2 linked regions of the Homo sapiens genome follow. The protein of the gene in region 2 interacts with the protein of the main gene of each other region in a pairwise test. Each region holds a gene or a part of one and is shown on either strand. Other genes may lie near its edges.

The links.
Region 1: the proteins of KLRC4-KLRK1 (region 2) and ULBP2 interact in binary tests that used the Homo sapiens proteins (3 or more experiments, as listed by UniProt).

What each region holds. Positions count from the first base shown.
Region 1 is NC_000006.12:149,944,947-149,949,966, reverse strand, and holds the end of ULBP2 (UL16-binding protein 2 preproprotein), read right to left. Parts: intron 4,659-5,020; coding exon 4,395-4,658; intron 3,596-4,394; coding exon 3,314-3,595; intron 2,648-3,313; coding exon 2,538-2,647; 3' UTR 2,516-2,537; exon of another isoform or gene 2,511-2,515; intron 1,245-2,510; coding exon of another isoform or gene 1,240-1,244; 3' UTR 732-1,239; downstream 1-731. UniProt on the Homo sapiens protein: Binds and activates the KLRK1/NKG2D receptor, mediating natural killer cell cytotoxicity.
Region 2 is NC_000012.12:10,400,079-10,407,376, forward strand, and holds part of KLRC4-KLRK1 (NKG2-D type II integral membrane protein), read right to left. Parts: intron 1-7,298.

The sequences.
Region 1 (5,020 bases), on a different chromosome or scaffold from region 2:
GCCAGGCCCTATGTCCAAAGTGGCATTTCCTAGGTTATCTTCCAGGATTTTTATAGTTTTAGGACTTACATTTAAATCTTTAATTCATGTCGAGTTATTTTACATATATGGTGAAATGTAGAGGTTCAGTTTCATTCTTCTGCACATGGCTAGCCAGTTATCCCAGCACCATTTGTTGAATTGGGACTCTTTCCCATTGCTTATTTTTGTTGATTTTGTTGAAGGTTAGAAGGTGTGAAGGTTTCTTTCTGAGCTCTCTATTCTGTTCCACTGATCTAAGTGTCTATTTTGGTACCAGTACCATTCTGTTTCGATCACCGTAGCCTTATATTATAGTTTGAAGTCAGGCAATGTGATGCCTCTGGCGTTGTTCTTTTTGCTTATGATTGTTTTGGCTATTTGGGCTCTTTTTTAATTCCAAATACCTTTTAGATTAGATTTTTCTAATTTTGTGAAAAATGACATTGGTGTTGATAGAGAAAGTGTTGCATCTATAAATCGCTTTTGGAAGTATGACCATTTTAGCTATATTGATTCTCCAACCCATGAGCATGAAATATTTTTCTATGTATTTGTGTTGTCTCTGATTTTTCTCAGCCATGTTTTGTAGATTCTCTTTTTCCACACAAAATCTGGTAGAATCACTCATTTATTACTCCATATCATGGAGGAAAAATGAAATAACATTAATTCCCTACTGAGTAATACAACAAAATTCTAAACACCGTAGGTTTTTGGGAAATAGAACTCTTTATTTAAATATCAGTACAGAACAATAAATTACTAAAGGAAACAATCATTAATATAAATTTTTTCTTATTAAATAATTTAAAAATTCTCTTTCAGGACACGGAAAGAATCCCCAGAGGTCTGAAGTCTAACGTGATTATTTTACTGACAATATCATTTGCAAGAAAGAGATCATCATTCAAAGAAGTACTTGATTTTCCAAACAAAAAGAGAAGAAAGAAAATGATATATCTTGTTTAGTCAGCCAGAACTTTAAGTGCAGGAATTCCATCAGGTAGCACCAAGAGAAAATTGCATAATATGTTAGGTATAACTGCTGGTAAAATTGTTGGCAAAAGGAATCAAGGCAGTGAATGAGCTATTGGGTCCATGATGTCATCATGATCTGCTGGAGGCCACTGGACATACACCGTAGGTCGTGGGCAGCTGGCCAGACAGAAGGGCGAGTTTGATCAAGACCGTGCTCACAGGAGCCTTTTGGTATCAGCTTTAACCTTCAGAAAGGACACAAATGTTGGTTTAAGGGGCAGAGAACCCGGATCACTTTTCCAGGGTAATCTTTCCCTAGTCACTCTATGTCTCAGAGCCCCCTGCACTAAGGGACCTATTTTTCCCTTGAGCCTCAACCCTGGCGACTGCAGCTTGGACCTACCTCTTTCCTCCTCTGTCACATCACAGAGTCAGCCCAGGCCCTGCACCTGACCAGGGGATGGAGTGGAGGGGCCTGCAGGTCTGAAGCTGGTAGTGATGGGTCCGCGCCCTCACTCAAGGCCCTCTCTATGATCTGATGTGAAGGCCTAAAACAGGCAAGGGGTGGGGCAGACTTCCAAAAAGAGGGCTCCATATTCCTGTGCCCTTGGCCTTTGGTGGGCCTGCAGGCAAACATCCTTCTTTCCCCTTCTTCTTGAGCCTCTCCTCACACTGGGAGCAGCACCCATTGCTCTGAAGGTGACTGTCCCTGTTCCACCTTATCAATTCCTTGTCCAGCCCAGTGGTGCCTGTGGAACCCCAGCAGCAGCTCAGACCCCCCTTCCTCTGAGTCCACTCTGCTCCAGGCAGGGCCATCAGTGGGCTCAGGATCTGGGGTGTGCAGGAGGATGATGGCAGGGGAGCTGCCTCAGGGCCCAGACTCGAGCTGCACATGTCCATGGGACTGACTTTTTAAAAATCCTTCTCTTGAGCAGCCTCTACTCTTCACCTTCCACCTTAATTCCTGGAACCCAAGCCACTTTCTGTGGGAAGGCAGCCCTGCACTCCCTCCTTTTCAATTAGGTGTACCAAGGTTCTCCCAGCCCCCTCCTCCTGGGATTACACCCAGATCTCTCTTAGCCTCAGAGATGGAATCCCCCTTCCCCTGTCACACCTCATGTAAAGCTACCATGATGCACCTAACCCAATTAAGAGGACTGCCCATGTCTGAATTCCTGCTGCCTGCAGGCCACACACCCTTCCTGAATAGGAACCTGCTCTGAATCAGGCCTGAACTTGCTAAACCTTCTCAAGCTCAACAGACCCTGAGCCTTGGTATGGGCCCCTCCCTTTCCCTCTGGACTCTGAAGGTGAGAATCCATCAGAACTCAGGGCTGAGCTGCCCAGGTCATTGCCAACATTGCCAACAGGCAACACAAGGTCTCATTCACCTGTCTCATGTTAGGATGAGAAGGTCCCAGCCACGGGGAGGGGCGGGACTCCGGGAATTCTCTTTCCCCATCCTGCCTCCTCACCCACCTGCTCCTTGCTCCACTTCCAATTCTGCCCACAGTACCTGTCACTCTAAAGGACTCTCCTCAGATGCCAGGGAGGATGAAGCAGGGGAGGATGATGAGGAGGCAGCAAAGGATGAGGGTGGTGGCTGTGGCCCTGAGTTGGGTTGTGCCTGAGGACATGGCGAGTGGTGCTGAAATGGAAACACAAAAGTGACAACCCTTGTCCAGGCCCCAAATCTGAGGAGACACCTCCTCAGTTCCTGCCACCCTAGGTCATCCTGGAAGGCAAAAGTTTTGTCCTCTCCCCCCTGGTGTGGGGCAGCCAGTATGACAGGTCCTGGCTTAGGAAGGGAGACGGGGTGAGTCTTGTCCTCAGGGAGCTCACACAGCTGCTGAGGGAAGCAAGGTGACAACACACCCCACCCTCCTGCTGTGGGGGAAGAGGAGGTGATGCCCCAGAGTTGGGGAGGGGAGGATCTCTGGGCTGGCGTTGGAAGTGGTTTTGATGGATTTCCAGAACCAGACCAGGGAAAGGAAAGGAAAAGTGATTCTCAAAAGAGGAAACACTAAGGAAAAAGGTCTGAAAACAGTGACACCTGCAGTTTCAAGGCTGGTGAGAAATCCACAGGGCGGGGAGCAGGAGCAAGTGCAGTGAGGAATAGGAGTCAGGAGGGAGAAGGAAGAGGACGGTGGGAGAGCACAGGCATGCCAGTAACCCCAGGAGGAGCGCCCCACGAGGAGGTCATTTTAACGTGAATGTGTATACTGGGATGATTGAAGCTGAACTCAAGAACTAACTTCTTGAGGTCACCATTTCTGATCACATTTGAGATCCCCGTTTCTTTTTCTCCTGTTACCTCCTGCACTTGGCTCCAGGGTGCTGTCCATGCCCATCAAGAAGTCCTCAAGCCATCCTATACAGTCTCCCATTGAGAAGTAATGGAAGGACATGGCCACAACCTTGTCATTCTCCCACTTTTCTTTCATCTTTCTGGCTCCAGGATGAACCGTTGTCCACATTCTCTTCTCTGAGTCAAAGAGGAGGAAGATCTGCCCATCGAAACTGAACTGCCAAGATCCACTGCTGTGTCCTTCAGCTTTCTGCTCACAAGACATCCTTGCCTGCAGGGTGAGGGGTTCTGCCCCCATCAGAGAGAGATCAGCTCTGATCTTGACAAATTTTGCACCCCCATCCTGTTCCCCTTACAATTTGCTGGCCTTACTCTCTCTGCTACATCTTGGCCTTGCCTCTAGACTCTTGAGGGGTATGATGACCTTCCCATTTGTATTTTTTTTTTTTTTTTGAGAAAGGGTCTCGCTCTGTCACCCAGGCTGGATGGAGTGCAGTGGCGCGATCTCGGCTCACTCAGCCTCCTAAGTAGCTGGGACTACAGGCGCCCGCCACCATACCCGGCTAATTTTTTGTATTTTTAGTACAGACAGGGTTTCACTGTGTTAACCAGGATGGTCTCGATCTCTTAACCTCGTGATCCGCCTGCCTCAGCCTCCCAAAATGCTGGGATTACAGGCTTGAGCCACTGCACCTGGCTTTTTTTTTTTTTTTTTTTTTGAGACAAAGTCTCACTCTGTTGCCCAGGCTGGAGTGCAGTGGCACCACCTCGGCTCACTGCAGCGTCTGCCTGCCGGGTTCAAGGGATCCTCCTGCCTCAGCCTCCCAAGTTGCTGGGATTACAGGCATGCGCCACCATGCCTGGCTAATTTTTGCATTTTTGGTAGAGACAGTGTTTCACCATGTTGGTCAGGCTGGTCTCGAATTCCTGACCTTGTGATCGGCCCACCTCTACCTCACAAAGTGCTGGGACTACAGGCGTGAGCCACCGTGCCCAGGACCCTTTTGTATTTTTACATGAAAACTATAAATGCCTCTAACCTACCACTGTATCTGTTCCCTGCTGTCCTGGGCCATCTGAAACTTACCCTTGGGTGTGTAATTCTCCAGCTGAATGTCACGCAGTTGCTCTGTAAGTATGTCCACCACCTCTCTCAGTACTGGGTTCTGTGCTTTCCAGGCCGTTGTGACATTTAGTTTCTTCCCCAGGGGACTGACAGGTGTGACTGTCTTGTTGCCACAGTCATAGTGAAGAAAAGTCTTTTCATCCACCTGGCCTTGAACCGCACACCACCGTGGTCCAGGTCTGAACTTAGGGATGACGGTGATGTCATAGCAAAGAGAGTGAGGGTCTGTGGAGAAAGGCAGGTGAGGGGTGGGTGGGGAGGAAAAGACCCCTAGTTAGCCCCCCTCCACGCTGTGTCAATAAGAGGATGCCTCTGGCAGGCTGGGCTGGCCCAGGAAGGAGTGCCCCCTCCAGAACTGTGGTGTCTACAAGTTTAAGGCGAGTGCTCGCCCCTTGCATGAGGACAAGGAGGAGGAGGAGGAGGAAGTCTCTGTCTGCTGAGAAACCACATGTCCCCAGACATGTCCCACTGCCCCTCTGCCCACATCAGTCAACACGTGACCTTGCTAGAAAGGTGCCAGGCCTCTCTAGCAAGAGAGGAGGAAGGGCCTGGATGGCAGAGGATCTTCAGCAGTAGCCCACGTGGAC
Region 2 (7,298 bases):
AGCATGGCCGCTATGAAAAAAGCAGAAAATAACAATTATTGCTTAGGTTGTGAAGAAATTTGGGCCCTTGTGCACTGTTAATGAAAATGTAAAATGGTACAGTCACTATGGAAAACATTATGGAGGTTCCTCAAAAAATTTAAAATTGAGTTGACATATGAACCAACAATCTTACTTCTGTAGAGCCAAAGGAGTTGAGATCAGGAACTTGAACAGGTATCGGCACTCCCATGTTCATTGCAACAGTTAAAACATAGAAGCAACATACAAGCCCATTGATGAATTGGTGGATAAAGAAAATGTGGCATGTGTATAAAATGGAATACAATTCTGCCATTAAAAAGAAGAAAAAGCTATTGCAACAACATGGATAAACCTGAAGGACATTATGCTGAGTAAAATAATAGTAAATTCATAGAAGCAGGGAGTAGAAGGGTGGTTGTCAGGGGCTGGGAGAGGGAAAAACAGGAGAGTATTAGTCAAAGGGTACAAACTTTCAGTTATACGAGATGAACAAGGTCTAGATATCTGTTTTACTACACAGAACCTGTAGTTAATAATGTTGTATACTAAAGATTTGGCTAAGAGCGTAGATCTTAAGTGTTTGTATCACAAAAAATAATAATAAAGAAGGTGGAAGGAAACTTCTGGAGATTACAGATATGTTTATGACACAGATTGTGGTGGTTTCATGGTTATACACTTATCTCTAATCTTATCAAGTTGTATGCATTAAATATGTACAGCTTTTTGTATGTCAATCATACTTCAATAAAGTTGTTTAAACATTTTTAAAAAGGATAATATACTTTATTTTAAAAAAGGAAGTCTTGTTGCATGCTGCAACATGGATAAATCTTAAGGACATTATGCTAAGTTAAATAAGCCAGTCACACAAAAAAAATGCTGCCTGCTTTATTTATATGAGATATCTAAAGTATTCAAACTCATAGAAACAGAAAGTAGAATGCTGATTGCTAGGGGCAAAAAGGGGAGTTGTCCAATGTGTATAGAGTTTCAGTTTTGCAAAATGAACAAATTCTAGAAATCTGTTGTAAAATGTGAATATAGTTAACACTACTGACCTGTTCACTTAAAAATGGTTGAGATATATGATATGGTTAAGATGTAATGGCTCAGATGTAACATACTGTATGAGTTCAACTATATGACATTCTGGAAAAGTAAACAACTATGGAGACAGTACAAAAATCGATGCTTGCCATGTGTTTGAAGGAGGAAAGGATGAATGGGCAGAGCACAGAAGATTTTCAGGGCAATGCAATTATTCTGTATGATCTATGATGATAAAGACATGTCATTATCATTATATATTTGGCCAGACCCATAAAGTGTAAAACACTGAGTGAAACTTAACATAAGCTATGGTCTTTCAATAATAATGATGTTTCAATTGTAACAAATATACCATGCTGATGGGGGATATTGATCATGGGAGAAGTAGTGCATGAGTGAGGACCATGGGAAGTCTCTGTAGCTTTCTCTCAATTTTCACAAGATGTGGAACCAGTATATAAATAGATACCTAGATTAATCAAATAGACTACAAAGTGCAAAAATGTATCCACAAATATATGGAATGTAGAATAGTTCAAGAAAGATGTAAAGGCATTCAGTGGAGAAAGTATAATCTTTTTAACAAATGTTTAAACACTTGGCTATCAATATGCACACACAAAATATTTTGATCTATACCTCATACCACATACAAAATAAGCTCAACTTGTGCACAGCAAAAGAAACTTTAAGCTCCTATAAACAGACAACCTACAGAATGGGAAAAATATTTGCAAACTATGCACTTGACAAAGGTCCAATATCCAGAATCTATGAGGAACAATTAAATAATCAAATAATAAATAATCCCATTAAAATAGGCAAAAGACATAACAGACAATTCTCAAAAGAAGACATACAAGCGGCCAAAAAACACATGAAAAAAATATGAAACATAATTATCAGAGAAATGCAAATCAAAGCTGAAATGAGATTCCATCTAACACCAGTCAGAAGGACTATTACTAAAATGTCAAAGACAACTGATGTTGGCAAGGCTTTGGAGAAAAGGGAACACTTACACACTGAAGGTATGAATGTAAATTAGTCCAGCCACTGAGGAAGGCAGTCCAGAGATTTCTCAGCGAACTTAGAACTACCATTTGATCCACCAATCTTACTACTGGGTATATCCCCCAAAAGACACATGCACTTGCGTGTTCATCACAGCATTCTTCATAATAGCAAAGACATGGAATCTCCCTAAATGCCCATCAAGGATAGGCTGGATGAAGACAATGTGGTACATACACACCATGAAATACTAGGCAGTCATAAAAAAAGAACAAGATTATGTCCTTTGCAGCAACATGGATGCAGTGGAAGGCCATTATTCTAAGCCAATTAACACAGAAACAGAAAACCAAATACTGCATGTTCTCACTTATAAGTGGAGCTAAATGATGAGAACACATGGGCACATAGAGGTAAATAACAGACACTGTGGCCTACCTGAGGGTAGAGGGTGGGGGAAGAAAGGGATCAGGAAAAGTAATTAATGGGTACTAGGATTCATACCTGGATGACAAAATAGTCTGTTCAACAAACCCGTGACACGAGTTTAACTATATAGCAAACCTGCATAGGTACTCCAGAGCTTAATATAAAAGTTAAGAAAAAGAGAGGTCAAGAATTGGAAGTGTTTAACTGAAATGAAATAATATAATATTACAGTCAATAAACATATTATATTTACACGTTTATACATACAATTGAAAATATAAATAATTATTTTAAAATTTAACAAATACATATGGAATGATTTTGATTTGTTACAAAGTGCTTGTATTTAAAAATAGTAGTTTGCTGTCTTTATGAGATACTCATAAAAATACTCCTTTAACATAAACATAAAAAATATGAAGATGAAAAATGGAAAAAATATACCATGCAACACAAACTGGTAGAAAACCACTTTAATATACTGTAATAATATAAAACAGAAGTTGTTATTAAAAATGAAGAAGCATATTCATAGTGATATATTTATTATCTATACCATTAGTAATTTTAAAATAATTTGTATGTACCTAATAATACACATTTAATATAAAGTTGAAAGAAATAAATGAGTAATTAATAAATTTAGGGATTTAGTCACTTCTCTTTCACATCTCATCACACAAACAGATACATCACTGACTCTATACAGAGATTTAAACTAGACAATTAGCCAACACACCTGTGTATACACACACATATAAACTGTATACTAATTCGGAATACTAATATTTTTAAGCTACACTGTATTTTCATAAACCTATGCATTTTAATATAAAATTTAGAAGTTTGCTATAAGTACAGTAGCATTAGCCAAAGTTGGCCAGTGGACAGTTAAAATGCACCAATTCAAGTTTAATATTAATTAATTAGAAGTAAATAACATTAAACATAAGTTTATTAGTCACACTAGCTATATTTACACAGAGATGAAGAACATTTCTAGCCTCACAGAAAATGTTCTAACTACAGTTTACTAACACAGAAGTCAATAATCAAAACTTTAGGAACTTTATATGGTTTTATATTCAGTAATATAATTCTAAATAACCTAAGGGCCAAATAAATTATCACAATAAATGTTCACAATTTTTACATCAATTAAAAGGAAAATAGAGCAAAATATTTTCTTGGGAAAAATGGATTGCCTTAAATTCATATATTGCAACAAAATTGCAGATACTGAATTGTCTGAATAAAAACAGAAATATGAAATTAACTGAAATTAAATAGAAGTAAAGTGGTAGGAAGAAAACAATAAATAGTAAAAAATCATGACAAAGAGCAAAATTACAGTAGAGAAGATCAATGAGGCTGAAGATATTTTCATTGAAAGGACTTAATAAAATTGATAAAAGACTTAAAGAATTTGAGAAGGCTCAAATAATTTTCTAGATTAAATAAGGGAAAACCATTATGGTTTTTACAGATATTAAACAGATAATGAAACCATATTATGAATACTTTTATATCTATATGAGATAGAAAATTCTTGAATATGCAAATTACCAAATTGCAATACAACAAACAGAAATCTGAGTAACCTCTATAAATATAAACTTTGTAAATATGGATGAAATGTCTGTATGTGCTAAAGAAATTGACTTTCCTACATAAACTTTCCTACAAAAACATTCTACACACTCAGATGGCATCACTAATGAATAATTACATTTTAAAACAGTACCCTTACACAAAGTCTTCTAGGTTATAGAAAAAGAGAAATGCTTCCCAATATACCCTTAAGAGAAAAGGCTTTCATGTACATAGCTATAAATAAAAACACAGTATAATCTCCTGTGCATTAATAAATTTAAACAGGCAATACAGAATGACCAGTATGGTTTTATTTCAGACTGGTTTAACATTTGAGAGAATTGAAATAGTTTACTTATTAAGATTATGCAGAGAAAACATGTATCATTCCAACTGATGCCAAAATAATAAAAATGTTACAATTGATAACAAAATCTATTAGAAAAACAGGAATATGATAAAGCTGCTTCAATATGAGAAAGGTATAATAAAAACGAACACACTTTGTAAATATGGATGAAATGTTGCAATCTTTTTACCTAAAATAGGAACTGATACATATGATATACATATAACCTTTCTGTGCCTTCTATTCAACATTCAAAATAAAACCTTAGCTAGTCCAGATTCAATGCAATCTGTATCAAAATGCCAGTGACATTCTTCACAGAAATAGCAAAAGCAATCCTCAAATTTATATGGAACCACAAAACATCCAGTATAGCCAAAGCAATTCTGAGCAAAATATCAAAGCTGGAGGCATCACATTACCTGAATATACTACAAAGCTACAGAAACCAAAACAGCATGGTGCTCATATTAAAACAGACATACAGACCAATGAATCCAGAAACAAATCCATTTGTTTACAGACAACTCACTTTTGACAAAGGTGCCAGGAACATACATTGGAAAAAAAAGATAGTCTCTTCAAAAATAATGCTGGGAAAACTGCATATCATAATATGAAAACTGAATGAAGTAGTCCTTTCATCTGCACAGTGGATATGTTCTAAGACCCCCAGTGGATGTCTGAAATCATAGATAGTACTGAACTGTATATATACTGTGTTTTATCTATACATACATACCTTTGATGAAGTTTAATTTATAAATTAGGCACGGTAAGAGATTAAAACAAACTAATAATAATGAAAAAGAACAATTATAACAATATGCCAGCATAAATACTCTTGCATTTTGGGGCCCTTATTAAGTAAACTAAGAGTGACTTGAACACAAGCGGTACCATACCACCTTAGTCAATCTCATAACTGCGACAGCTGAGTGACTAATGGACAGGGAACTTAGGCTGTGCAGGTATCCTGGACGAAGCAATGATTCATGTCCCAGGTGAGATGGAGCCATACACTATATAAAGGATTTGATCACACTACTCAGAAGAGTGAACAATTTAAAACTCATGGATTTTCTCTTCCTAGAGTTTTCCTTTTAATATTTTTGGCCGTGGTTGAGCCTGGGTAACTAAAACCACAGAAAATGTAATTGTGGATCATTCCTTAACATTTATATCAACATTTCACTAACTTTCAACATCTTTATTTATGGCTATAATTGCACTTAAATTTATTCATAATGTTATTCTGAACCTGTCCTTTTATATTCTTCTACTATATAGCATCATTCAAAAAACTTACTTCAATTTGAACGTTGAGCCATTTATTGACACCCATGGATGATCACTGCTACTACGAGAGATGCCAACCCATGAGAGAACTGACAGGGAGCCCAGAAATTTCTAACGAAAAATAAAAAATTTTCATTTAAATAATAACTATAAAAGATTTTACTAATTTTTAGGTGCTTTCTTTGAATTCTAAACTTTTATTAATTTTTAAAAGTGCAGGTAATACATTCTTTCAAAGGATGCTTAATTTTCAAAACAAAATAAATACCTTAAACAAAATAGTAAACTTGAAAACAACTTTTATAGTGTAAAAAGCTATTACAAATTTTTGTAATTTTGACTTAAAATGAACTCTTCAATTTTTATACTTAGTACATTCATTCTTCTTATTTTAACAAGCAAAATTGTGATTCATGTAATTTAACAGTTGCTTGTGTTGGTAAGACAGACACAGTAAGAACTGAAATAAATTTCCTGATACTGTGCATGTATTTCTCCAGATATTCTGATTAAATAAATGTATTTTTCCACTATGTGTCTCATAGTGGAACTTTTCCTCCTTGAAGTTTAGAAGGAAATTGAAAGGTTGCCATTGAGGAAATAAATGACACAGCAGCCAAAAATTGGCTTTTCTGGGCACCACACCACTCTCTAACTAGATAAGCCCTCACTTTTATCTGATTTGGTTTTGGTGGAATAACAATGGTCTTGACCAGGTACATGGACTCCTTTTTCTCTGCTACTCCCTAATAAATACAACTCTAAACTCTGCAAGTAATGAAAGACACACAGGAAAACTCTGAAAGGTGGAAAGAGGAAGGCAAAATAGTTTGGGACCCCAGAATCAGGGATCAACAGAGTGTCCGGGCATCTTCAGTCCCCCACTCAGCAGAAGAAAGTGATCTAGTCCTCTGTTTCTCAGAACCAAATCTGGTAACAGGAGGTGGGTCAGCTAAGCCCATTCCCACTCTGTATTGAAAGGGAGTCCTGCCAGCAACATTAGGCAAGCCTGGTACCACTGGCAAGGATGACCTACCAGGAGGCCTGCTACCAGTTAGGAGCTAGAGGAAGTGCTTCTCCTCCCAAACCAAAAGACATCAGGGTAGGTGCGGTGAGAGGGATCAGCAAAGGAACCGCATGACTACACGTGCCCATCCAGGTTCCTCTTTGTTCCTGAGGGCACGAGACTCACTTCCCCATCCAGAGACACAGGACTGAACAGATTGTAAATGTTCTATGCACATCATGCAGCAATGAAAAGCAACAAACAACAGCTAACTGCATTATTGCACAAATATCATATAGGAGTAAAAGAAGACACACATGAAAATACACATTGTATGATTCCCTTGACATAAATTCTGGAACAGGCAAAGCTTATTTATCACATTAAACATCAATACAAAGGTTTGGAGAGGAGGCAGGAAAAGTGAGGAAGGCATACACAGGAGCAGGACTGCTGGGGCTGGAAACTTCTATTTCATGATCTGCCCTGTATCATGAATCCATTCACTTTGTGATCAATATGCATGACCAT